Linked DNA regions of Homo sapiens. The protein of the gene in region 1 purifies or fractionates together with the protein of each later gene. This does not show direct contact. Each region holds a gene or a part of one and is shown in the gene's direction. Other genes may lie near its edges.

Region 1 (4,707 bases):
CCTCTGCTATGGCCGCTTGACCTTGGAAACTCATGTACCCATACCAGATCCACTGATGGGAATGTATACAGCTTACAGCCACCCTGTCTGTCTGGCTCTCCCTTTCCCATTCTCTTCTCTGCTTAAGTACACATACCTATAACTGCTCACGCTGAGGAGGGGAAAAGAATGCCCCCCAGTCTTTCCTTGAGGACACCATAAGCCTTTAAGAAGGAGTAGCATGCACCAAGAAGAGGGGAGGAAAAAGCCACTACATTACCCAGTAGGCCAAACCATGGTTCCAGCAAATTTCCCTGCCTCTCACTAGCTCAGCCTTCTGGAAGGGGGTGGCTGTGGTTTGTGGGGTTGGCAGGGCTGATTCTACTTTCTGAGGTAGATGGCAAGCCCCACTTGTTTGGTGACTTCCTGATAGTGTGGAATAGTTAACGTATCTTTGTCCTGAAGTTTGGGACCCTGATGACCAATTCTAGGGCAAACATCCTGTTACAAAGGCAAGAAATTAATGAGTTAAATGATGAGTTTATTATAAAATTATGGTCAACACCCTACAATTATATGTTATAATATTTTGTATAATATGTAGAGCAATACTAATCAAACAAATAGTTATACTAGTAACTTTACCTCCTTCTCCTTTCCATCTTACCTCTGCCTAAATGTCCCTGGTCAGAAGTCCTTAGTCACCGACGGGATTTAACTCCAAACTCCTTTTTTGACATTGATAATGCTCCAGTCCTTATTTCTGTACCCAGACCCTCTGCTCCCCCAGGTCAGGACACTTGGGCCTGCTGAGTCCAGCTCACACACAACTCTGCCTTTGGTCTGACTCTGTTTTTTGTCTGAAATGCCTACCTACTTTCTGTTTGTCTAACTCCAGGCTTTCCTGTAGGTTTGCCTTTCAAGCCACTGTGCACTATAAGGCCTTCCAGAACTGCTCTTCCTCTGGATTTCTTAGCACCCACATTTCACCATTAGCCTAAGCCGTCTTCTCTTTCAGCGTTCTCTTTTTCTTCCCGTACTCTGTTACCTTACTAAATTATACATCTCTCAAGGACAATAACACTTTTCTTAAGCTTCTCCGTAGTGTTATGCTTGTTCAGTGCATATATGTTTGCTGATGGCAAAGAATAATATTTTGGAAATAATTTCATGATTTAAAAATCTAAAAGATATTAAGATATACTGAAAAATAAGTATTTGATTATTTAAAATGTTACAAAAGAGGAAGGTTTCCTACTCCCTCTCTGCATCCACATTTTCATGGAACAAAGGCCTAGGTATAAGCTGATTTAGATTTGCCCCCATCTAGAAATTTAATCAAAGTCTTAGAGCTGGAGAGAACATCAGGGTTACTGAGTCTCCCTCTCTGCCTTAGGGTTCAATACAAAATTTAACACTGTTTGATTTGGAACTAGGGAATGGTTTGGGGACAGTAAATGTTGAGGCTAATTAGGTGATTTAGATAATCCAGAGTCTGTGTAAAATTAAAATCCTATTTGTAGTGAGACTCTGAACTAGCTTTCTCAGCCTTTTGCTCTACCTCCTGCACAAGAATATGACTCAGAGCTGGGAGTAATGGCATGCTTAGCCTTGGATAGCTGTCCTCCTCTGCTTTCAGGATCCATTTTCATTACTCTATCATCTTCCTCTTTCTTTCTTTTCTTTTCCCTTGTTCCCCTAATGTATCAATTGGAAAGTATCTAGCATTTCATGGTACAATAGAAAAGGAAGTGGACTAAAAGGAAACCTAGATTCTATTCCCATCTTTTTCACCAATTATGTGATCTCAACCACCACCACACCACTCTGGGCTTATTTCTTTGTTGATAGAAGTGGGGATGAAATTAGGTAATCATATTAATGTCACTGGTTTTTGTATAGACCATTATATGTAACCGTTCACTTAGTTATTGGCGTACCCACCACATTGTATCGTGTGAAGTATAAACACTTTTTTTCTTTCTTTTTTTCATAAGGTTATAGCTCAGCAAGTGTCAGATAAACACTTGGAAGAGGGTCGGCTTTATCCTCCTTTGAATACCATTAGAGATGTTTCTCTGAAAATTGCAGAAAAGGTAAAACCACTCTTGTTCAAGCTTCATTATTTTTCCTTCCTTTTCTTGCTAAATATGCATTTTTAAATATTAAAAATCTGCTTCCTTGAAATGTATATCTGTATCAACTTACTATGTCAGAAGTCAGAGAAATGAGGCACACTGACACTGTAGAGCTTAGGAGCTACATTTGCTTCTCAGAGAAGAATGGAAGTATTGGGCCGAATAATTAATTTCCCTCTCTATCGTTCTTTTTTTCTCCTAAAATTTAAATAATTCATTAGGGCTTCCTGTCAGCCAGATTTCTCCCATTTCACCTTTTTAAAGTTGTTCTTTTCTATATCACATTAGTGATAATTAACCAAAATATTACAGATATGTTAGAGTAACATTTAGACCTTGAACCACCTTCCATATCCATGTCACTATGATGTGTGGCATCATAAATGACAGATCACAACTGATAATACTGGGCGGAAGGCAAAATAAAGAGGTCAAAGAACTTGAAAGCTGTTTGGGTGGCAGATGAGCTACTGAAGGAGTTAGCCAAGAAGAACCCAAAGGCAGAGAAATTTTCTGTAACTAAACTGGAAGATAAGTGGACTTTTTTTGCAGTGTAATTGTATTAGTTTTCTTGGGCTGGGATAACTACATACCACGGTTATGTAGTAACTGTTTTTAAATATTCAAGCCACAGACTGTGTGGCTTAAACAACAGAAAACTATTTTCCCATAATTCTGGGAGCTAGAAGTCTAAGATAAAGATGTTTGCAGGTTTGGTTTCCTCTGAGGCCTCTCTCCTTGGCTGGCAGATGGCTGCCCTCTTTCTGTGTCCCCATATGGCCTTTTCTCTGTGTGTGTACACGCTTGTGTGTCCAAATTTCCTCTTCTCTTAAGGACACCTATCAAATTGGATTATAGACCATTCTAACCGTCTCATTTTAACTTAATTATCTCCTTAAAGGCCTATTTCTAAATACACTCACATTCTGAGGTACTAGTGGTTAGGGCTTCAACACTGAATTTGGGGTGGGAGGAACACAGTTTAGCCATGACAGTAGTTATATGTTTAAATTGGGGTTTCTCTACTTCAGCGTTGTGGACATTTTGGGTCAATAACCATCATGCGGCTGTCCCAGGCATTGTACAATCTTCAGCAGCATTCCTGGCCTCTGCCCACTAGATGTCAGTAGCATCTGCTCAGTTGTATCAACCAAAGCTGTTTCCAGACATTGTCAAGTATCCCCTTGGGGGCCAAATTGCTCCAGATTGAAAATCACTAGCTTAAGCTATTAGCAAGTTATCTAAACAACACCATTTAAGAGTCACATATCATTATTTATCTCGTTGACTGAAGGCAGTCTCTTAAAAAAAGAAGTAATTCTCTAAAAACCTTTACATAATAATCTGCTTGGTTATCTATGAAAAAGTATGTTCATATATTCTACTAATATGTATCTGCTAGTTTTTAAGTAGTTTAAACTATTAATATACTGAATAGCATATTATCATTTTAAGTTCATTTTGGAGATTTAAATGAAAAAGAGTTAGCTTATGATTAGAGGGGAAAAAAAGCAGGGGACAGCAGGGGAGTGCCAAAAGATTCAGATATCACACCTAGAATAATGGAAGAATACAGAGTGCATACACAGAAATTGAGAAACTAGAACAAAGAACCAACTTCAGAGAGGGAGATCATGTAAGTGGACTGCAAGTTTGAGGTATCAATGGCACATTCAAATGTACCATTTTATCAAGTAGATAGAAATGACTGAAACTTAAAGAGAGGCTAGATAAAAGACCTGGGCATCTTCTGCATGTGGTAACTGGTGAATATCTAGGAGTGGGTGAGGTTGCCAAGAAAGCAAGTATAGAAAGGAAATAAAAATGAGAATAGAATATAGTTTATTATTCTGTCTAGAAGACAGAAGAAAGATGCCAGTTAAGAAGAGAAGTGGTCAGGATTTTAAGAGACTCCAAACTGAGCAGCATGTCAATAATTAGGAAAGAGACAATTTCAGAATGGGAGTGGAAATTGTGACCAACACAGCCAAATCCTGGAGAGAAAAACAGATGCAGACTTTTATTTGGTACTTAACAAGTTATCAGAGACTTTTACAAAAGAAATTTCAAGATGTACAGGAGGTTCAGAAGGCAGAGAATTAGGAAAGCAATAAAATATAAGCCACTCTGTCAGAGAGTTTGGCATTGACAGGACAGAGAGAGTGAAGATTTCATTGGGAGAAGGGATTATTTCTATGGTATAACTGGGAGCAGAAAGAGGAGATGAATTTCCACATAGTCTATGTCAGTAATGAAACAATGTGTTTTATTATAAAATTAACATAGCCATCTTAAGTAGGCATGAGGGATCTTTTTGGGGTGATGGAAATATTCTAAAACTGAATGTGGTAATATTGTTGCACAGCTCAGTAAATTTACAAAAATAATTTAGTTGTACACTTAAAATGCTTGAATTTTGTGTGAATTATATCTCAATAAATCTGTTTAAAAAGTAATACTACCATATTATGGGCACTTTGGAAAACAAATAGAGAAAAGGAAAATAACCAATATCCTATTTTTCTAATATAAGTATTATTTTTTTTCCTGTGTTTGTTTTGAGTCTTTCGTTTGTTTATTTTCTAACATT
Region 2 (4,707 bases), on another chromosome or scaffold:
TTGGAATAGCAGCCCCAAATATCAACAACTGCAGTATTATAAACTCATGCCACACAATTAAAAATAAATGCCCACTCACATTTTTAATTGACATAGAGTTGCCTTTTGGAGTGCTAGTGATTTTTAGCATTTTACTAAACCTCTCCCATTTGCACAGGTAAATTAGACTTGACAGCTTTGTGATCAATATAGCAGGACTATCAACTTTTTAAAGAATGATTTCAAGAGCATTTTTGCAAAAGTGGAATTCGTCATTAAGTATGACCAAAAAAAAGACTCACTCTTTGATGTTCCAGCCTATGTAGTCTTTAACATGTAATCCTTGAGAAGACAGAGCAAATGAATATATATTGCTCTAGTGCTTGTAACATATTAAGGAGTAACAAATGATAAGGTTAAGTAAAATCAAGACTAATTGTACAAATGACACTTAGCCATGAAAGTTTTCCCAGCTTACTGAACATGGGACACTTTCTGGCTGTGCATTAATGTACTAGGGGAATCCTCTGGTAATTGTTAATAGTGGAAGGAAGGGTATGTGGCTGAGCTGAAGTAATATATGAATTCTGGAAGATTGTTAGGCTTATCTCTTAAGAGATAAGAGAAAAGATTCATCTTATGAGAAGAATCTAGAACTTGAGAACTTCTACATTGTGATTTTGCTGATATACTTTGACATTAATATATTCTACTTTGGGACCAAGAGCAGTGGCTCATCCTGATAATACCAGAACTTTGTCTGGGAGTCCGATGCAGGAGGATTGCTTGAGTCCAGGAGTTCCAGAGCAGCCTGGGTAACAAAGTGAGAGCTCGTCTCTACAAAAAGTTAAAAAAATTAGCTAGGCGTGGTGGCATGCACCTGTAATCATAGCTATTCTGGAAGCTGAGGTGGGAGGATCTCTTGAGCCCAGGAGTTTGAGGTTACAGTGAGCTATGATCACATCACTGCATTCCAGCTTCAGTGACAGAATGAGATCTGGTCCTCCTTCCCCCTGACCCCCCAAATTATATATTCTACTTTGGTAGCAAGACCATTATCACTTGGAATCACCGCCCGCCAAATTTTTAAAATTAGACCCTTTAATATTAAAGAAAATTAAAAATATTCAGGATAATTTGTTCTTAAACCAAAAGCATAACAATTCTTAAAATATTGGAAATTAATACTTCCTTCCTGAATTATTTTTCAGTTGCTCAAAATGTGGTAAGCATGAGTAAACATCATGTACAGATAAAAGATGTAAATCTGGAGGTTACGGCCAAGCCAGTTCCATTAAATTCAGGAGTCAGATTCCAGGTAACAGGATGATTAAAATTTTTTGGATTTCTGTTCATCACAAGCACTTCTCTCATCCATATTTCTGAACATCAAATCATTTTCCAGGTTTATGTAGAAGTTTCTAAAATGAAAATCAATGTTACTGAAATTCCTGACACATTGCGTGAAGATCAAATGAGAGACAAACTAGAGCTGAGCTTTTCAAAGTCCCGAAATGGAGGCGGAGAGGTGGACCGCGTGGACTATGACAGACAGTCCGGGAGTGCAGTCATCACGTTTGTGGAGATTGGAGGTACTCAAGGGTGTAGAAGGTTAACAGACACTCTGCCATTTCAGTCATGTTCTGTTGTTTCTGAAAGTATTCCTATTCTACTTCTTTTATTTGGAATGTATTAGCATGATAATTGGGGATTTTAAAAAACCTTATAAAATAGTAGAGTGTAGGAAATTATTTCCAGGGACAGTACTAGGAAAGATAATATTGCTACAAATAGGCAGGGTGCAGTGGCTCACCCCTGTAATCCCAGCACTTTGGGAGGCGGAGGCAGGCGGATCACTTGAGGTCAGGAGTTCAAGACCAGCCTGTCCAACATGGCGAAACCCCATCTCTACTAAAAATACAAAAATTAGCCAGGCATGGTGGCAAGTGCCTGTAATCCCAGCTACTTGGGAGGCTGAGGCAGGGAGAATCACTTGAACCCAGGAGGTGGAGGTTGCAGTGAGCTGAGATCACCAGGCATAGTGGTGCGTGCCTGTGGTCCCAGCTACTCAGGAGGCTGAGGTGGGAGGATTACTTGAGGCCAGGAGGTTGAGGCTGCAGTGACCTGTGATTGCACCACTGCACTACAGCCTGGGAGACAGAGTGAGACCCTGTCTCAAAAAACAAAATTAAAAAAAAAAATTGATGGATTAGATTTTTTCATGACAAAGTAATACATGCTTTTTTAAGGAAGGTGAAATAATACAGAAGAGCAAACATTTAGTAAAAATGAGACATTTCGGCCGGGCCCGGTGGCTCATGCCTGTAATCCCAGCACTTTGGGAGGCCGAGGCAGGCAGATCATGAGGTGAGGAGTTCGAGACCAGCCTGACTAACATGGTGAAACCCCGTCTCTACTAAAAATACAAAAAAATTAGCCAGGTGTGGTGGCGCATGCCTGTAATCCCAGCTACTCGGGGGGCTCAGGCAGGAGAATAGCTTGAACCCAGGAGGTGGAGGTTGCAGTGAGCCGAGACTACGCCACTGCACTCCAGCTTGGGCGACAGAGTGAGACTCCGTCTCAAAAAAAAACAAAAAGAGACATTTCCTCAAACTTCCCTTTCTCCTACTATTTAGTTAGTTATGGTTATTTGGGTGTCTTTCCAGGCTTTTCTCTGGGCACATTAAAACATGTCAATATCCTTTTTTTTTTTTTTTTTTTTTTTTTTTTTGTGAGACAGAGTCTTGCTCTGTCGCCCGGGCTGGAGTGCAGTGGCACTATCTCAGCTCACTGCAACCTCCGCTTCCCGGGTTCAAGCAATTCTCCCACCTCAGCCTCCCGAGTAGCTGGAATTACAAGTGCATGCCACCATGCCTGACTAATTTTTGTATTTTTGGTAGAGACGGGGTTTCACCATGTTGGTCAGGTTGGTCTCGAACTCCTGACTTCAAGTGATACGCCCGCCTTGGCTTCCCAAAGTGCTGGGATTACAAGCATGAGCCGCCGCTCCTGGCCCAATATGCATTTTTGACCTGAGCTTTTGGATGATGTTTAGGACATCCTGGTGGGATGTGTCAGGGAGAGCTATAAAAGGAAGGGGTCTTGAGGGCTACAGTAATATGTTGTCTTGGAAATGAACAATAACTTGGTGGAAACTTCCATAGTCAAGCATCCAGATTTTAATTTGCCAAATTCATATATTCATTTAGCCTGTTTGGTGTTAGTTTGTCTATATCTTGGATTTTAAAAAATCTGGCCAGGCGCAGTGGCTCATGCCTATAATCCCAGCACTTTGGGAGGCGGAGGCGGGTGGATCACTTGAGGCCAGGAGTTCAAGACCAGCCTGGCCAACATCGCGAGACCCCTTCTCCACCAAAAATACAAAAATTAGCGGATGTGCTGGCTCACGCCTATAGTCCCAACTACTTGGGAGGCTGAGGCAGGAGAATTGCTTGAACCTGGGGGGTGGAGGTTGCAGGGAGCTGAGATTGCATCACTGCACTCCAGCCTGGGTGACAGAGTGAGACTCGGTCTCAAAAAAACCGAAATAAAATAAATAAAATAAAATAAACTAGAATGCAATTTATAACTCTACTGTGAGAGATAATACTAGCTTTGGAACCTGTGTCCTTGGGCCATCTGGGGATGTTCTCCTAGAGGTTACATCTAGCCAGATGGGAAAAATACTTCTGCAGGTTATAGGTTATCCAGCAGGTAACTACTGAAGGATGTGAAGGTATTCTGGAGATAAATATGCCAGATACTTCATAAACTGTGTCTTACTGACTCATCACAATAATCTACAGGGTAGGTACTGTAATTATGCTTATTTTACAGAAAAAGAAACTGAGGCTTTAAGAAGTCAAGCAACATATCCAAGGCCACATAGCTCATAAGTAGCAGAGCTAGGACTGAAGCTGGTCTATTTGACTCAGGACCTGTACTCTTTTTTTTTTTTTTAACTGTGATAAAATATATATAACATAAAATTTACCATTTTAACAATTTTTAAATGTACAATTCAAGGGTACTAAGTACATTCACAATGTTGTACAACCATCACCACTATCCATCTCTAGAACTTTTTAATCACCCCAAACTGAAACTCTGTACCCATTTAACAATAATTCTCCATTACCTCTTCTTCCAGCCCCTGGTAACCATCATTCTACTTTCTGTCTCTATGAATTTGCCTATTCTAGGTACCTCATTCAAGTGGAATTATACAATATTTGTCCTTTTCCTGTCTGTCTTATTTTGGTTAGCATAATGTTATCAGGGTCCATCCATGTTGTGGTATGTATCAGAATTTCATCCTTTTTAAAGGCTGAATAATATTCTCTGTGTGTGTGTGTATTTTATATATCCATTTTGTTGATCTGTTCATCTGTTGGTGGATGCTTGGGTTGCTTCCACCTTTTGCCTATTGTGAAAAATACTGCTCTGAGCATTAACGAGCAAGTATCTGTCCGAGTCCCTGCTTTCAGTTGTTTCGGGTATATACCCAGAAGTTGAATTGCTGGATCATATCATGTTCTATTTTAATATTTTGGGGAACTGTCATACTGTTTTCTACAGTGGCTGTACCATTTTACATTTCTATCAGCATTGCCTCAGGGTTTCAATTTCTCCATATTCTCGCCAATGAGGGCCTACACTCTTAATCATTGTACCATATTGCTGATCCAAGGTAGATGAGTGAGAAGAGTCATAAAAAACATGGTTGTA
Region 3 (4,707 bases), on another chromosome or scaffold:
CACCCTTGGCTGGAGGGGGCGGGGAGGGCCAGCCAGCTGGGTGTGCAGTGGGTGCTAGGGCTTCATGTTCACACCTTGGCTCCTGTATCCAGGCCATTGTGGCGAGTAAGGCCAGCCAGTTCACAGGCTATGCACAGCATGATGCCCAGGAGTTCATGGCTTTCCTGCTGGATGGGCTGCACGAGGACCTGAATCGCATTCAGAACAAGCCCTACACAGAGACCGTGGATTCAGATGGGCGGCCCGATGAGGTCAGGGTTAGGGACAGAGGGTGGGCATGTCTCATGAGCATCCCAGCCCCTGGTACTCTTTGGTTCTCACCACTCTGCCTCTCAGGTGGTAGCTGAGGAAGCATGGCAGCGGCACAAGATGAGGAATGACTCTTTCATCGTGGACCTATTTCAGGGGCAGTACAAGTCGAAGCTGGTGTGCCCTGTGTGTGCCAAGGTGTGATGGGCTCCCCTGGAAAGAGACCCCCTAGTTCAGCTCAGCTATTCTGGTCACATTAGGTTCAGAGGCATGTGCATCTTAAGGTGCTACAGGGCAAGGTTTGGGCAAAGAAGCTGGCAGGGAGGCCTTAGGATTCTATTTGGGCTGAAGAGCCCACTCAGGGTAGGCTTCCTGACTGAGGGAAAAGTGATGTTAGAGCTCAAAGGTGTTGTAGCAGGGTTGTGGGCACATGGGGTGCAAGTGTGAGGCCAATTCGTAAAGTGGCTAAGCTGAGTAGGGCTTTGAGTGCCAGAAAGAAGGATTGTTATTTCCTGGTGGTCCTCCTGCCCTGTCTAGTGTCCTGAAGCCTGAGAGTTTGCTGGTTGGCTGTGGGGGCCCTGAGAGCCATCAGAAGCCCCGGAATGGGCTCTCTGAGCATGAGCATCTTATCTCCCACTCTGTGTGCAGCTACCCAGTGCCACCTCTACATCCACAGGTCTCCATCACTTTTGACCCGTTTCTTTATCTGCCGGTGCCCTTGCCACAAAAGCAAAAGGTTCTCCCTGTCTTTTATTTTGCCCGAGAGCCCCACAGCAAGCCCATCAAGGTGAGGAGTAAGCCCCTACCCTCTGGGCTGTTCTAGAGAACGTGGCCCACCTCCCTCACTGACTGCCCTTTTTGCCACAGTTCCTGGTGAGCGTCAGCAAGGAGAACTCCACTGCGAGCGAAGTATTGGACTCCCTCTCTCAGAGTGTTCATGTGAAGCCTGAGAACCTGCGTTTGGCGGAGGTATCTTTGTCCTTCCTTGGGCTATCACATGTGTGGATGTGTGTGTGTACTCACCACAGACGTGTGTACAGTCATTGGCATCTACAGACATACACATGGGCTGGGCACAGTGGCTCATGCCTGTAGTCCCAGCACTTTGTGAGGCCGAGGTGGGCAGATCACTTGAGCCCAGGAGTTTGGGACCAGCCTGGGCAACTTGGTGAAACACTGTCTCTACAAGAAATAAAATTAGCTGGGCATGGTGGTACGTGTTATAGTCCCAGCTACTTGGGAGGCTGAGGCAAGAGGCTCACTTGAGCCCGGGATGTGGAGGTTGCAGTGAGCAGAGATTGCACCACAGCACTCCAGCCTGGGTGACAGAGTGAGACTCTGTCTCAAAAATAAATAAATAAATAGATAAAAAAATAAAAATAGGGCCAGGCGTGGTGGCTCATGCCTGTAATCCCAGCTCTTTGGGAGGCCAAGGCTGATGGATCACAAGGTCAGGAGATCCAGACCACCCTGGCTTACATGGTGAAACCCCACCTCTACTAAAAATACAGGAAAAGTTAGCCGGGCGTGGTGGCACATGTCTGTAGTCCCAGCTGCTCAGGAGGCTGAGGCAGGAGAATCGCTTGAACCTGGGAGGCAGAGGTTGCAGTGAGCCGAGATCGCGCCACTGCACTCCAGCCTGGGTGACAGAGTGAGACTCTGTCTCAAAAATAAAATAAAATAAAATAAAAATAGACATACACATGAGTATGCCTGTGACTGTACAAAAACAGGCGATGTGCTGTTATTTTTTCTGTGCAACAGAAGTGCCCTCAGTTCCTAGCCATTATCAGGGTTTATTCCCCTTTGTGGTGGTGGATCCCAACTGCATTTCCCTTTTTAGACAAGGAGCTTGAGCTGCAGGACTATCCCTATGTTCGCTCTGCCTCTCCCTCTATCCTGCTGCTCTCTCCTTTTATCCCAGTTGTGTGTGCTAGCTCTCCCCAGGGGTTCCTAGCCTTTAGCCTGACAGTGTTGGTTTTCTTAGGGGTAAGAGTGGGGAGGAGGCTCTTTGAATGTGGACCCTCCATGATAATATGTTACAGTCTTATAAGGCTATGCTAGTTATAGCAGGGCAGAGTCCCTCAGTGTGGAGAGCTGGTGTGGTTGATATCTGCCTCACACCTGGTCTTTCAGGCCCTCTGATGCACCAGGCTCCTTATGGCATTGGGCACTGAGACAGGTGCCAGCAGAGGCATAAGCCTATTTGGGCCTACAGACCTCACCACTGCCCACATAGACCCAAGGCAGGGCCAAGCCTTCTTAAACTCTGGGGCAGGGCTAGGGAAAGGGCTTATCCTCACGTGGGATCTGTGTGTTCTCTGTCCCCAGGTAATTAAGAATCGTTTTCATCGTGTGTTCCTACCCTCCCACTCACTGGACACTGTGTCCCCATCTGATACGCTCCTCTGCTTTGAGCTGCTATCCTCAGAGTTGGCTAAGGAGCGGGTAGTGGTGCTAGAGGTGCAACAGGTGAGTGGGGGCCAACCTGATGGCACAGCGCCCTGGTGGGTGGGGCACTTCTTCCTGGTCTTGCTGAGCCAGACGACCCACCCTAGCGCCCCCAGGTGCCCAGCGTCCCCATCTCCAAGTGTGCAGCCTGCCAGCGGAAGCAACAGTCGGAGGATGAAAAGCTGAAGCGCTGTACCCGGTGCTACCGTGTGGGCTACTGCAACCAGTGAGGACCCCCATGGTCTCCCCTACCCTTTCTTTCCACCTTCCATGTGCCACCCTGCTCCTTCCCTTCACACCAAGGCACATATGCTTAAGCTTTCTACTTGCCACCCTACTTTACCAGGCTCTGGGGGAGGCAGGGCTGGCGTACCCAGTTCCCAGGGACTATGACTAGCCCCCAGTATGGAGTCATAGGAGATGGGGCTAAGGGCCTATCCTTGTCTTCCTCTTCCCGTCAGGCTCTGCCAGAAAACCCACTGGCCTGACCACAAGGGCCTCTGCCGACCTGAGAACATTGGCTACCCCTTCCTGGTCAGTGTACCTGCCTCACGCCTCACTTATGCCCGCCTCGCTCAGTTGCTAGAGGGCTATGCCCGGTAAGTGCCCAGTGGTTGGACTAGAGTGGTGTAGGTGGGGGCAGAGGTGCTAGATGGGCTGGTCAGGAGTCTTACTTGCGTTGTTCTCTGTTGCCAGGTACTCTGTGAGTGTATTCCAGCCACCCTTTCAGCCAGGCCGCATGGCCTTGGAGTCTCAGAGCCCTGGCTGCACCACACTGCTCTCCACAGGTTCCCTGGAGGCTGGGGACAGCGAGAGAGACCCCATTCAGCCACCTGAGCTCCAGCTGGTGACCCCTATGGCTGAGGGGGACACAGGGCTTCCCCGGGTGTGGGCAGCCCCTGACCGGGGTCCTGTGCCCAGCACCAGTGGAATTTCTTCTGAGATGCTGGCCAGTGGGCCCATTGAGGTTGGCTCCTTGCCAGCTGGCGAGAGGGTGTCCCGACCCGAAGGTAAGATCCAGTGAAAGGCTCTAGAAGCTGGGGAGGAGGATAAGGGAGGATGGAGGGGGCTGTTGTTTAGGGCCTGGTGGGCCTGGTGAGGCCCTGATGGGCAGGGAAGCTTTGATTATCATGTTCTCACACAGCTGCTGTGCCTGGGTACCAGCATCCAAGTGAAGCTATGAATGCCCACACACCCCAGTTCTTCATCTATAAAATTGATTCATCCAACCGAGAGCAGCGGCTAGAGGACAAAGGTGTCTGAGGCTGTGGGTGGGAGCCATGGGGTGGGTTGAGCTGGCTGTTCTCCACAGCTGCATGACCTCTCTCCCTGCGAATCTCCAGGAGACACCCCACTGGAGCTGGGTGACGACTGTAGCCTGGCTCTCGTCTGGCGGAACAATGAGCGCTTGCAGGAGTTTGTGTTGGTAGCCTCCAAGGAGCTGGAATGTGCTGAGGATCCAGGCTCTGCCGGTGAGGCTGCCCGGGCCGGCCACTTCACCCTGGACCAGTGCCTCAACCTCTTCACACGGCCTGAGGTGCTGGCACCCGAGGAGGCCTGGTGAGAACAGAGCAGCAAGTAGATAAGGGGGCAGGATGGAGAAGAGAGAGACTTGCTGGTCCTGACCCAATCTCTGTCCCCACCAGGTACTGCCCACAGTGCAAACAGCACCGTGAGGCCTCCAAGCAGCTGTTGCTATGGCGCCTGCCAAATGTTCTCATCGTGCAGCTCAAGCGCTTCTCCTTTCGTAGTTTTATCTGGCGTGACAAGATCAATGACTTGGTGGAGTTCCCTGTTAGGTAAGCAGTGGACCTTGGTAACTGTGGGTGGGGTGTGAGGACCAGGATGGGCATCCTGAGCGCCTGTTGCCTGTCTCACCCCTCCCTGACTGGACCTGACCTGCAGGAACCTGGACCTGAGCAAGTTCTGCATTGGTCAGAAAGAGGAGCAGCTGCCCAGCTACGATCTATATGCTGTCATCAACCACTATGGAGGCATGATTGGTGG
Region 4 (4,707 bases), on another chromosome or scaffold:
TTAAGTAAATTGTAATCATCCATGTTGTGGAATACTCTGCAATCATTAGAAAGAATTAGGCAGAACTTGGTGTACTGTTTTGGAAAAATTTCTAAAATCTATTCAGAAGGGGGCTGGGCATGATGGCTCACACCTGTAATCCCAGCACTTTTGGAGACCAAGGCTGGTGGATCACCTGAGGTCAGGAGTTCGAGACCAGCCTGGCCTACATGGTGAAACCCTGTCTCTGCTAAAATTACAAAAATTAGCTGGGCATGGTGGTGCACACCTGTAATCCCAGCTACTTGGGAGGCTGAGGCAGGAGACTTGCTTAAGCCCAGGAGGCAGAGGTTGTAGTAAACCTCTTAGATTGCACCACTGCTCTCCAGCCTGGGTGACGGAGTGAGACTCCATATAAAAAAATATATAATTTTTTTCAAAAAGGTAAGACACAATGCAATGTATGTAGTATACTCTCATTTGCGTTTTAAAAGATGATTTTAAAAGCTGTACATGCATTTTTAGTGGAGATGGGGTTTCACCGTATTAGCCAGGATGGTGTCGATCTCCTGACCTTGTGATCCACCTGCCTCGGCCTCCCAAAGTGTTGGGATTACAGGCGTGAGCCATCGTGCCCGGCCAAAACCTGTATATGCTTCTGTATGCATAAAAATTTCTAGAAGGATACAAAAGTTTGCCTCTGGGGAAGGGATCAGGAATTTTGAATGATAAGAAGACTTCCTTGTGAAATCATTTTATACCTTTTGATGGTATATTGATTTTTTACCATAGGCACATGGTACTGTTTTTGAGGCAGGGTCTTGCTCTGTCCTCCAAGGCTGGAGTGAGGCTGGTGGAACACAGCTCACTACAGCCTAAACCTCCTAGGCTCAAGGGATCCTACTGCCTCAGCCTCCCAAGTAGCTGGGAGCATGGGCACGCACCACCTCACCTAGCTAAATTTTTGATTCTTTGTAGAAATTAGGTCTCACTCTGTTGCCCAGGTGGTCTCGAATTCCTGGGCTCAAGTGATCCTTCTACCTTGGCTTCCCAAAGTTTTGGGATTACAGGTGTGAGCCACCATGCTCAGCCTACGAATACCTAAAAAATATTTTTAAGGTGGGTGTGGTGGCTCACGCCTGTAATCCCAGCACTTTGGGAGGCCAAGGCTGGCAGATCACCTGAGGCCAGGAGTTTGAGGAGAACAGCCTGACCAATGTGGAGAAACCCCGTCTCTGCTAAAATAAAAAAAAAAATTAGCTGGGTGTGGTGGCGTGTGCCTGTAATCCTAGCTACTCAGAAGGCTGAGGCAGGAGAATCCCTTGAACCTGGGAGGCAGAGGTTGCAGTGAGCCGAGACTGCAGCACTGCACTCCAGCCTGAGCGACAGAGCGAGACTCTGTCTCAAAGAACAAAAACAAACAAAACTAAAAAATATTTGAAAAATAACATCACTATAAGATAACTTTAGACAACTCAGTTTATTTTGTGTATCATATCTGGCAAATGTTGTATTAAGAACAGCCCAACATGCTTTTGAAATTTTGCCCCCTTTGGATCATCATTAAATCATTACATAATTGAAGCCATACAAATGAACTGTAATACTACATTGAGCAAATTATAATCACAGTGGAATATCTGCTTGGGAATTACAAGTGTCATGTATTCAAAACAAATGAAATGATGTGGGGTACTATCTACATTATTGTTCTCTATAGACTGTTAAGAATTGACTGTCCCTATAAATTTCTGATAAATATGGGTATTGAGAGTAGTTGTAGTAAGCAATATAAATTAATGTTATTGATGTAGGAAGAAAGTTCCCAAATGTGTAAGATTTGTTGTTGATTGTCTTTTTTTTTTTTTTTTGAAACGGGGTCTTGCTCTGTTGTCAGGCAGGAGTGCAGTGGCACAATCTTGGCTCACTGCAGCCTCCGCCTCCCAGGTTCAAGCAATTCTCCCACCTCAGCCTCCCGAGTAGCTGGGATTATAGGGGCACACCACCATGCCCGGCTAATTTTTGTATTTTTAGTAGAGACAGTGTTTCACCACGTTGGTCAGGCTGCTCTTGAACACCTGACCTCAGGTGATCCACCTGCCTTGGCCTCCCAAAGGATTTTCTTTTCTATAATGGATTTCTTTTATAATCTTTCTAGAATGAAAATACCCTTTAGAAAAGGTATTTCCCAAGACCCTGAGAATTACCAGAGAGGTTATTTGACTAACTCTAGTCTAGTGAAACCTCACTTCCCTTATTCCCTCTCCTCCCACCAAACAATGACCAAATTGCTAAATGAATGGGTCCCTATCACACTGGGAAATATGGAAGTGGAGGAAGACAGTCAGAGGGAGGGGAAGATCAGGCAAATTCCAAACAAGGGCAGAAAGAGGAATGAATAATTTGGTGCTAATGTGAGTGCCTACAAAAATACTGTCTCTATTTCTCCAATTGTATTTGGCTTCAGAAAAAGGGTTCTGAAATTCAGTAGTCAGTTAGACTTAGTTTTTCTCTGACTGTAAACCCTGTTGAGAGGTAACTATCACCACATCAGTGTAGAGTTCTCCAAGTGGGCTGTGTATGTTCTAAGGTGACTCCATTTCTCATTGCAGAAAAACGCCTGTCTAGGGGCATCTCCCACGCCAGCTCCAGCATTGTTTCCCTGGCCCGGTCCCATGTCTCCTCCAATGGTGGGGGTGGGGGGAGCAATGAGCACCCCCTGGAAATGCCCATCTGTGCCTTCCAGCTTCCAGATCTCACTGTATACAATGAAGACTTCCGCAGCTTCATAGAGAGAGACCTCATTGAGCAGTCCATGCTGGTTGCCTTGGAACAGGCAGGTCAGTGAGTGCTTCCTCTCCCACACTCTTCCCTCTACTCTCCACCTACAGGCAGCCTTGTGGAGGGGCTGGACTTGATCGCTAGCTTCCAGTTTAAGTGTGTTATCTGATTGCAAAGTCAGGAGTCAGTGGGATAAACTTGTGCTGTCAAAGAATGGATACAGATTAGATACTTTACTCTGGGAATTTCCTGGTTGATGGAAGAGAAACCAGATACACATGTGAAAAGGCCTAGGAATCAATACCTCGAAATCAATACATGAAAAAAATACAACTAATTATAATTGGCCCTGGAACACCCTTGTGAACAGAAATGACCAATGCTGTAGATGATGCACAGTAGTGAACCTATCCCCCCAAATGTATTTACGTTTGTAATTGTGTTTATCTTAAATTATTGTTAAAATTAATTCTTATCATAGGGTGAGGCAGCTGGGAATTTTGGAAAAGCTAATCAGGCATTAAAATGCTTGTGTGGGATAAGAACTGGAGTTAGATGAGGGCATGGAAAGGAAGCTTTTATTTTTCATTTTGTAACCTTCTATATTAACCATATACATCTATTTGTAATTTTTTTTTAAGTTGGTAAATTATCTGGTCTGGGGAGTTTATAAGCCAGTTTTTCATTCAGTAGTTCAAAAACTATGCTCCACAGTAGTTCAAGAAAACTTATGCATCACTCATAAGATATTTTCCTCATGTAAATAATGGGTTGGCAATTGTGGGATGACTGCATGGAATTAAGACTTATTTTCTTGGATATTTTATGTACTTTATCTTATTGCTCATTCCTTTAAAGTCACACCCCACACGTGATGACATGCTGTCATATATGCAGATGATACTCATAAAACACCTTAAATACATGCTTTGAGTTGTTTTTGTTTTGTTCATGATGGATTTTTGCTGAGCTTTGTTGCTGTGATACATACTGGTCTCCTGAGTGGAGGGAAGGAATCAGGGCCAGTCCAAGCAGTCAACAGTTTCAACTTATGTCCTTGGCCTCGTCATTTAACCCAGGGTTTCTCAACCTTGGCACTATTGACATTTTGGTCTAGATAATTCTTTGTTTTGCAAGCTGCCTTGTGCATTATATCATGGTTAGCAGCATCCCTGGCCTCTACCCATTAGATACCAGTAGCATCCTGCTACCAGTTGTGACATGCAAACATATCTTCAGTCATTGCCAGTGTCCCTTTGGGACAAAATTGACCCTACTCACTGATCTAACCAATTGTGCTCACAAGATTCTGACTGACTAGATATAAGTGAGGAAGATATAAAGAGTAATCAAGTGATGGTTTTATTCTGGGTAGGCCTCCTAGAGGAGGCTGCTTTGGAGTCTGTTTCAGAAATAGGAAGGTGGAAGGGCTTCATGGATAATCTCCTTTTCCTCCACTATCTTGTTTCTACAGGGCGTTTGAACTGGTGGGTGAGTGTGGATCCCACCTCTCAGAGGCTGCTTCCTTTGGCAACTACTGGAGATGGGAACTGCCTCCTGCATGCAGCCTCCCTTGGTGAGTCTTGAAAGCAGTCCTCCATTCACCTGCAGAAAGGAAGCAGTTGAGTCAAATCTCATGTGTAGGACTTGATCCAGATAACCTTGATCTTAGGCGGAAATGATGGTTCAGAGCGAGATTGTGCATGCTTACGTGTGTGTCTGTGTGTTTATGTTGGCACAAGAGGAAATGGGAGTGAGCCCTACCTTTGCTAGTGAGATAGTGAAGAGAGCACAGATATTAGCTTGGGCTGGCTTTGAAAGCTGACCCCAGGAGTAATGAGTAGGAGTAAGCCAGCAGTGTATAGCTAGATGTGTGTATGTGTACAATTCTACTTAATATTTATTCTTTTGTTGTATGAAAAAGGTATGTTTTTAGCAGTCCTTTGT

The links. Proteins that work in one complex are often made in the same cells at the same time.
Region 2: the proteins of ME1 (region 1) and NMI fractionate together in Homo sapiens (co-fractionation; one large-scale study listed by BioGRID). This does not show direct contact.
Region 3: the proteins of ME1 (region 1) and USP19 purify together in Homo sapiens (affinity purification with western blotting; one study listed by BioGRID). This does not show direct contact.
Region 4: the proteins of ME1 (region 1) and OTUD7B purify together in Homo sapiens (affinity purification with mass spectrometry, with the first as the bait; one study listed by BioGRID). This does not show direct contact.

What each region holds. Positions count from the first base shown.
Region 1 is NC_000006.12:83,213,866-83,218,572, reverse strand, and holds part of ME1 (NADP-dependent malic enzyme), read left to right. Parts: intron 1-1,976; coding exon 1,977-2,075; intron 2,076-4,707. UniProt on the Homo sapiens protein: Catalyzes the oxidative decarboxylation of (S)-malate in the presence of NADP(+) and divalent metal ions, and decarboxylation of oxaloacetate.
Region 2 is NC_000002.12:151,272,348-151,277,054, reverse strand, and holds part of NMI (N-myc-interactor), read left to right. Parts: intron 1-1,190; coding exon 1,191-1,297; intron 1,298-1,384; coding exon 1,385-1,571; intron 1,572-4,707. UniProt on the Homo sapiens protein: Acts as a signaling pathway regulator involved in innate immune system response.
Region 3 is NC_000003.12:49,110,503-49,115,209, reverse strand, and holds part of USP19 (ubiquitin carboxyl-terminal hydrolase 19), read left to right. Parts: intron 1-92; coding exon 93-251; intron 252-336; coding exon 337-447; intron 448-925; coding exon 926-1,036; intron 1,037-1,116; coding exon 1,117-1,218; intron 1,219-2,580; coding exon 2,581-2,721; intron 2,722-2,807; coding exon 2,808-2,926; intron 2,927-3,161; coding exon 3,162-3,299; intron 3,300-3,396; coding exon 3,397-3,710; intron 3,711-3,844; coding exon 3,845-3,955; intron 3,956-4,043; coding exon 4,044-4,260; intron 4,261-4,346; coding exon 4,347-4,499; intron 4,500-4,605; coding exon 4,606-4,707. UniProt on the Homo sapiens protein: Deubiquitinating enzyme that regulates the degradation of various proteins by removing ubiquitin moieties, thereby preventing their proteasomal degradation. Stabilizes RNF123, which promotes CDKN1B degradation and contributes to cell proliferation.
Region 4 is NC_000001.11:149,965,406-149,970,112, reverse strand, and holds part of OTUD7B (OTU domain-containing protein 7B), read left to right. Parts: intron 1-2,591; coding exon 2,592-2,819; intron 2,820-4,234; coding exon 4,235-4,336; intron 4,337-4,707. UniProt on the Homo sapiens protein: Negative regulator of the non-canonical NF-kappa-B pathway that acts by mediating deubiquitination of TRAF3, an inhibitor of the NF-kappa-B pathway, thereby acting as a negative regulator of B-cell responses.